2 linked regions of the Homo sapiens genome follow. The protein of the gene in region 1 interacts with the protein of each later gene in a pairwise test. Each region holds a gene or a part of one and is shown on either strand. Other genes may lie near its edges.

Region 1 (3,816 bases):
GTGGATCACTTGAGCTGAGTAGTTTGAGACCAGCCTAGGCAATATGGTGAAACCCTGTCTCTACCAAAAATACAAAAATTAGCAGGGCATGGTGGTGTGTGCCTGTGGTCCCGGCTACTCGGGAGGCTGAGATGGGAGAATCGCTTGAGCCCATGAGATGGAGGTTGCGGTAAGCTGAGATTACACCACTGCACTCCAGCCTGGGTGACAGTGAGACCTCATCCCAAAAAAACAAAAACAAAACCCAACAGAATCTCAGTTTTCCTTACAGACCTACTGAATAAAAATCTGTACTTTGACAAGATCTCCAGGTGATTCTTCCCCGCCTCCCGCGCCCCCCCGCCTCCCCTCCTGCCCTAGACAGAGTCTTGCTCTGTCACCATGCTGGAGTGCAGTGGCACGATTTCAGCTCACTGCAACTTCCGCCTCCTGGGTTCAAGTGATTCTCTAGCCTCAGTCTCCCGAGTAGCTGGGATTACATGGCTTGCCACCACACCCAGCTAATTTTTGTATTTTTTAGTAGAGATAGGGTTTCACCATGCTGGTCAGGCTGGTCTCAAACTCCTGACCTCAGGTGATCCACCTGTCTCAGCCTTGCAAAGTGCTGGGATTACAGGCATGAGCCACTGTGCCTGGCCCCTCCAGCTGATTCTTATTCATGTTAGTTTGAGGACAAACTGTACTAAAAGCTGAAGGACTGTGCTGAGGCTTTGTAGTAGCCACTTTATGGAATGGGACAAGCGGCATGGAGGGCACAAGTCAGTGTTGAGATCCCCACTAAGCTTAGAAACCATTGGTATGTGGTGACAGCAGTTTACCTGGTGATTTCCTCTAGGCACGCTTACTAATCTGCTTACAGGAATGGAGAAAGAATGATTGGACTGATTCAAGGCCGGAGGTTAGCTGAGCAGGTGAGGCAGAAAGACATGAGAGAAGGGGAGTTGGAAGTGACTGATGTGATCAATTAGAGAAAAAAAGCCAGGAACGGGCAGATACCAGGAGCAAATGGAATGGTCAAAGGACTAGGTGAAATGAGAATAAAGTAGTGGGTGAGTTGGAAAGATGGGAGGTTGTCGTCAGAGAGTGGCTTATCAGGTTCATAGAGTTAGAAGGCTTTGTATACATCATCCTAGTCCAACTTATTTGTTGTGGGAATTTTTTCCTTTTATACTACTCTTTGTTTCAAAGTAAATTATTTTGGAGCAGCCTTTTATTTTCTTGGAAAGATCAATAACCCAGGAGTTATAGGTTACAAGGAGCTATGGTCATGTCAGTGCACTCCAGCCTCGGTGACCCTGTCTCTAAAAATAAAAAAATAAAAAAAAAATTAAGCTATAGAAGACATCCTGAGGTGGCTGGTTTGCATGCAAGCCTATTTATTTATTCATTCATTCAACAAAAATTTCTTTCTTTTTTTTTCTTTTTTTTTTTTTGAGACTGAATCTCGTTCTGTCGCGTAGGCTGGAGTACAGTAGCAGAATCTTGGCTCACTGTAACCTCTGCCTCCTGGGTTCAAGCAATAAGTGGATAACATTTAAACTATCCATCTTAGACTTTAAAATCATATATAAAATAATGTGGCCGGGCACGGTGGCTCACGCCCGTAATGCCAACACTTTGGGAGGCCGAGGAGGGCGGATCACGAGGTCAGGCTAACATGGTGAAACCCCATCTCTACTAAAAATACAAAAAATTAGCTGAGCATGGTGGCACGCTCCTGTAGTCCCAGCTACTCGGGAGACTGAGGCAGGAGAATCGCTTGAACCCAGGCAGCGGAGGTTGCAGTAAGCTGAGATGGCACCACTGTACTCCAGCCTGGGCGACAGAGCGAGACTCTGTCTCAAGAAATAAATAATTAATTAATTAATAATGTGATTTCCCTTAAAGATTTCTTTTTTTTTTTTTTTGAGACGGAGTTTCACTCTGTCACCCAGGCTGGAGTGCAGTGGCGCGAAGTTGGGTTGCTGTAAGCTCCGCCTCCTGGGTTCACGCCATTCTGCTGCCTCAGCCTCCGAAGTAGCTGAGACTACAGGCGCCCGCCACCACGCCTGGCTAATTTTTTCTATTTTTAGTAGAGACAGGGTTTCACCGTGTTAGCCAGGATGGTCTCGATCTCCTGACCTCGTGATCCACCCCCTCGGCCTCCCAAAGTGTTAGGATTGCAGGCGTGAGCCACCGCGCCTGGCCTAGATTTCTTTTTTTTTTTTTTTCTGAGACGGAGTTTTGCTCTTATTGCCCAGGCTGGAATGCAATGATGCGATCTCGGCTCACTGAAACCTCGGTCTCCTGGGTTCAAGCGATTGTCCTGCCTCAGCCTCTGAGTAGCTGAGATTACAGGCATCTGCCACGATGGCCGGCTAATTTTGTATCTTTAGTAGAGATGGGATTTCTCCACGTTGGTCAGGCAGGTCTCGAACTCCCGACCTCAGGTGATCGGCCTCTCAAAGTACTGGGATTACAGGTGTGAGCCACCCACCGTGCCCAGCCTCTTTTTTTTTTTTTTTTTGAGACACAGTCTCCCTCTGTTGCCCATGCTGCAGTGCAGTGGCATAATCTTGGCTCACTGTAACCTCCACTTCTCAGGTTCAAGCTGATTCTCCTGTCTCAGCCTCCCGAGTAGCTGGTGTTACAGATGTGCACCATCACCCGGCTAATTTTTGTACTTTTAGTAGAGACGGGATTTCACCATGTTGGCCAGGCTGGACTCGCACTCCCAAGCTCAGGTGATCTGCCCACCTCGGCCTCCCAAAGTGCTGGGATTACAGGCATGAGCCACCGCACCGGCAAGAATTTCTTTTTTTGAATAGTTCAACAATTATTTATTAGTGGGTCACAATGGCACACACCTGTAGCCCCAGCTACTTAGGAGGTTGAGGCAGGAGGATTGCTTGAGTGAGCCAGCCTAGGCAACATAATGAGACACCAAGACCCCGTCTCTAAAAAGAAAAAAATGTATTTATTGTAGGCCAAAGTTTGCCTGTCTGAAAATTTCGTTATGTTGGTTCTAGTTCTGCCCTCTGGAGTAACATAGTGTAAGATGAAACAAGGCTGTTCTGCCTTCTGTTTTGTAACCCTCATTATCTGAAAACAGCTCTCATGTTTTCTTCAGATTCAAGATTCTTAGCTTATTCAGCCATTACTGAATGGTGTGGTTGTAGTTTGTAAACAGGGTGATTGACAGGTCTAGAGCATAAGTCTATAATGGATTTATCAGAGGGCACTAGGTTCAGTGAGGCCTGGAAAGGATCCTTGTGCACATTTGCCTTTTCCAGAGATAGAGGATGCTGCAGCAACCTAAGCTGGGCCTTATAGCGGAGGAAATATACCAGACTAGTTCAAGAGCCAATTTCATTAATTCACTGTCTTACCCAATCTATCCCAGAACCACCAAATCAGGTCTCTTGGCTGTTGATGCCAGTGAGCTCCAGAAAGATGAGGCATACGCAGGCAGTACTAGAACTATATTCAAATTAATCTCTGCTGGACAGTTAAGCAGTCCTTATCTGATTTTAGTTTGGAGTTAGGGTTCCTTCTAACACTCAATGTCTTGTTCCATCTTTCCACTGCATGCAGACATCTGAATGGGACTCCGAGTGCCTTACATCCCTGCAGCCCCTTCCTCTTCCTACACCCCCAGCAGCAAATGAGGCACACCTGCAGACAGCAGCTATCTCTCTGTGGACAGTGGTGGCCGCCGTGCAGGCTATAGAGAGGAAGGTGGAGATCCACAGCCGGCGACTCCTACACCTGGAAGGTCGGACAGGGACAGCAGAGAAGAAACTAGCCAGCTGTGAAAAGACAGTTACCGAGCTTGGG
Region 2 (3,816 bases), on another chromosome or scaffold:
ATGCCCAGCTAATTTTTGTATTTTTAGCAGAGATGGGGTTTTACCATGTTGGCCAGGCTGGTCTCGAACTCCTGGCTTCAAGTGATCTACCCGCTGTGGCCTCCCAAAGTATCAGGATTACAGGCATGAGCCACAGCACCCTGCCAGGCTTGGGTGTTCAAGGAAGAGAAAGAAGGCAGTGTGGCTGGGACATAAGTGAATGAGAGGTGGTAGGGTAAGAAATGTGTAGAAAACTATGCAGGGGCCTGATCACATTGGATCTTGCACATCTTTTTCCAAACCTCAGGAGGAGTCATTCTGCTTTTGTTGTTACTGGTTCCTCACTTCCGCACTTTATTGTATGCTGACAACCTTCCATACCATGGGACTGAGACTGCCCTCAATAGTATCACCAATGTCTTTTTTTGTTTTTTTTTTTTGAGGCAGAGTTTCACTCTTGTCGTCCAGGTTGGAGTGCAATGGCGTGATCTTGGCTCACTGCAACCTCCGCCTCCTGGGTTCAAGCGATTTTCCTGCCTCAGTCTTCCGAGTAGCTGGGGTTACAGGAGCCTGCCACCACACCTGGCTAATTTCTTGTATTTTTAGTGGAAATGGAGTTTCACCATGTTGGCCAGGCTGGTCTTGAACTCCTGACCTCAGGTGAACCACCCGCCTTGGCTTCCCAAAGTGTTGGGATTACAGGCATGAGCCAACGCACCCAGCCACCAATATCTTAATGGCCACACAGTGCTCATTGATAGATGCCTTGGCCCTGGGCTATTGTTGCTATAGAATTGGTTTGATGAGTACATATTACATGAGATCTGGGCTCATTAGAGCTTATGGCTTGAGCAGGGACTCCTTGGCCTAGGTTTATGCTGCTCCTGGCCTTGTTAATGACTGCTATTAACACTCTACCCCCTTTTTATTTTTTTGAGATGGGGTCTTGTTCTGTCGCCCAGGCTGGGAGGCTGGAATGCAGTGATCTTGGCTCACTGCAGCCTCCGCTTCTCAGGCTTAAGTGATTTTTCCTGCTTCATCCTTCTGAGTAGCTGGGACTACAGGCACGCACCGCCGTGCCCGTTTGATTTTTGTTTTTGTTTTTTTAGTAGACACGGGGTTTCACCATGTTGCCCAGGCTGGTCTCAAACTCCTGACCTCAAGTGATCTGTCTGCCTCGGCCTCACAAAGGGCTGGGATTACAGGCATGAGCCATTGCGCCAGGCACCACTCTACCCTTTTGACTTTGAGCAAGTAAGGTCGTTGATTCCATACATTCATTAAGATTCCTGCGTGGCAGAAATCTAACCCCAACTGGTATAACCAAGACAAGGAATTGATTATCTCATAACCTTAAATCAGGTGTGGCTGCATCTAGGTGTTCAAATGATATTGTCAGGACCCAGGCTCTCCATCCCTTGGCCCAGCTTTCCTCTGTTTTGGCTTCACTCTGAGGCAGGCTCTCCCTTGTGATAGCAAGATGACCACCGGCAGTTTCAGGCTTACCTCCGGCTTCAGGCTTACCTCCAGCTTCAGGCTTACCTTACCAACCCTAGTGGAAAGAGAGTTTCATTTTTGACAGCTATGCAAAAGGTCTGGACCTGGGCCCTCACTGGCTTAGTATGGGTTAGGCCCATCCTTAAGCCAATCATTGGCTCAGCATGGGTTAGATCCGTGACTGTCACTGGCTGAGCATGGGGGTTAGGCTCACCCTATCATTGGCTCTGCGTGAATTAGGCCCACCTCTGTCACTGGCTCATCGTGGGTTAGGCCCACCCATGAGCTGATCACTAAGGTCGTGAATAGGCATATGCCTCTTCCCAGGTGTGGAGGATGATGTCAGATCCCTCTGAACTCATGAAATGAGTAGGGTATTCTCCCAAGGGAATATTGTGCTGTCACAGAAGATGGAAAAATGAATGCATGTCTGGAAAAAACAAGCAAAACTACAAATCATTAGCTTTATATGACATTTATTTATTTTTTGTTTATATGTTTTTGAAATGGAGTCTTGCTCTGTTGCCCAGGCTGGAGTGCAGTGGTGTGATCGTGGTTCACTGCAACCTCTGGCTCCCGGGTTCAAGCGATTCTCATGCCTTAGCCTCCCGAGTAGTTGGGATCATAGGTGCCTGCCACCACACCCAGCTAATTTTTGTGCTTTTAGTGTAGACAGGATTTTACCATGTTGGCCAAGCTTGTCTTGAACTCTTGACCTCAAGTCATCTGCCTGCCTCAGCTTCCCAAAGTGTTGAGATTACAGGCATGAGCCACCACGTCTGGCCAGCTTTGTATGACATTTCGCCTTTCTGCCTTGATCAAACTTTCAGAGAATCTGCTTTCCAGAGGGATGAGTGGGTCGGGAAATAGCATGTTTTCTCTGAATGAGGGAAAGGATTGAAAAAGTAGGAGGGAGAAAGGATGTGAATATGAGTCCCAACAAATGCAGAGTTATCGGTAAGTTTTGTGCTTGAATCTAGGTACAATTGTGCATTTCCTGGTTCTGCATGAATTAGGCCCACCTCTGTCATTGGCTCAACATGGGTGAGGCTCACTAACTTCCACCAGAAGTTAGTGGTGGTGTCTGTGTTGACACTTACATGTTTAGCCTAATGATTTCATGTTTTAACCAAAACTATATAGCTTGTTGGTTATATCTTAGAAAGTGATGGTTTTTGCTCATTCTTTTGTCCCCAGGGATACACACCAGCCTCTAAGTTCTCTTGAGGGAAGGAAGGGACCTTGCACACAATCTTTTTTTTTTTTTTTTTTTTTTTTTTTTTGAGAGGAAGTCTCACTCTGTCACCCAGGCTGGAGTGCAGTGGTGCGATCTCGGCTCACTACAACCTCTGCCTTCTGGGTTCAAGTGATTCTCCCGCCTCAGCCTCCCGAGTAGTGGGGATTACAGGCGCACACCACCATGCCCGGCTAATTTTTATATTTTTAGTAGAGATGGGGTTTCAGTGTGTTGGCCAGGCTGGTTTCAGACTCCTGAGCTCAGGTGATTCACCTGCCCTGGCCTCCCAAAGTACTGGGATTACAGGTGTGAGCCACTGCGCCCGGCCTTGGACACAATCTTTTTTTTTTTTTTTTTTGAGACGGAGTCTCGCTCTGTCACTCAGGCTGGAGTGCAGTGGCACGATCTCAGCTCATTGCAACCTCCACCTCCTGGGTTCAAGCAATTCTCCTGCCTTAGCCGCCTGAGTAGCTGGGACTACAGGTACCTGCCACTGCGCCCGCCTAATTTTTGTATTTTTAGTAGAGATGGGGTTTCACCATATTGGCCAGGCTGGTCTCAAACTCCTGACCTTGTGATCTGCCCGCCTCGGCCTCCCAAAGTGCTGGGATTACAGATGCGAGCCACTGAGTCTGGCCTGGACACAATCTTACTTGGATTCCTCATGCCCTTTTGACAAGCTCAGAGCCTCAAATAAATTCAGAAAATAGGTGATTACATCAAACAGCCTCTATCAACAGGGAGTATACAAACCGTTAGCCCAACTGTTAATAGAAGTCTGCTTTCTTGCTGGGTGTGGTGGCTCACACCTAGAATCCTAGTGCTTTGGGAGTACAAGGCAGGAGGATCGCTTGAGCCCAGGAATTTGAGACCAGCCTAGGCAACATAGTAAGACCCCATCTCTTAAAAAAAAAATTAGCTTGGCGTAGTGGCCTATACCTGTAGTCCCAGCTAGTCAGGAGGCTGAGGCAGGAGGATCAGTGCCGCCTAGGAGTTCAAAGATGCAGTGAGCTATGATTGTGTCACTGCACTCCAGCTGGGTTGACAGATTGAGACCCTATCTCTTAAAAAAAAAATTGCTTCCCTCACCTCTGCTGTGAAAC

The links.
Region 2: the proteins of ZNF398 (region 1) and NDE1 interact in a two-hybrid assay, tested with the Homo sapiens proteins (one large-scale study listed by BioGRID).

What each region holds. Positions count from the first base shown.
Region 1 is NC_000007.14:149,150,372-149,154,187, forward strand, and holds part of ZNF398 (zinc finger protein 398), read left to right. Parts: intron 1-603; exon of another isoform or gene 604-872; coding exon of another isoform or gene 873-911; intron 912-3,573; coding exon 3,574-3,816. UniProt on the Homo sapiens protein: Functions as a transcriptional activator.
Region 2 is NC_000016.10:15,656,696-15,660,511, forward strand, and holds part of NDE1 (nuclear distribution protein nudE homolog 1), read left to right. Parts: intron 1-3,816. UniProt on the Homo sapiens protein: Required for centrosome duplication and formation and function of the mitotic spindle. Essential for the development of the cerebral cortex.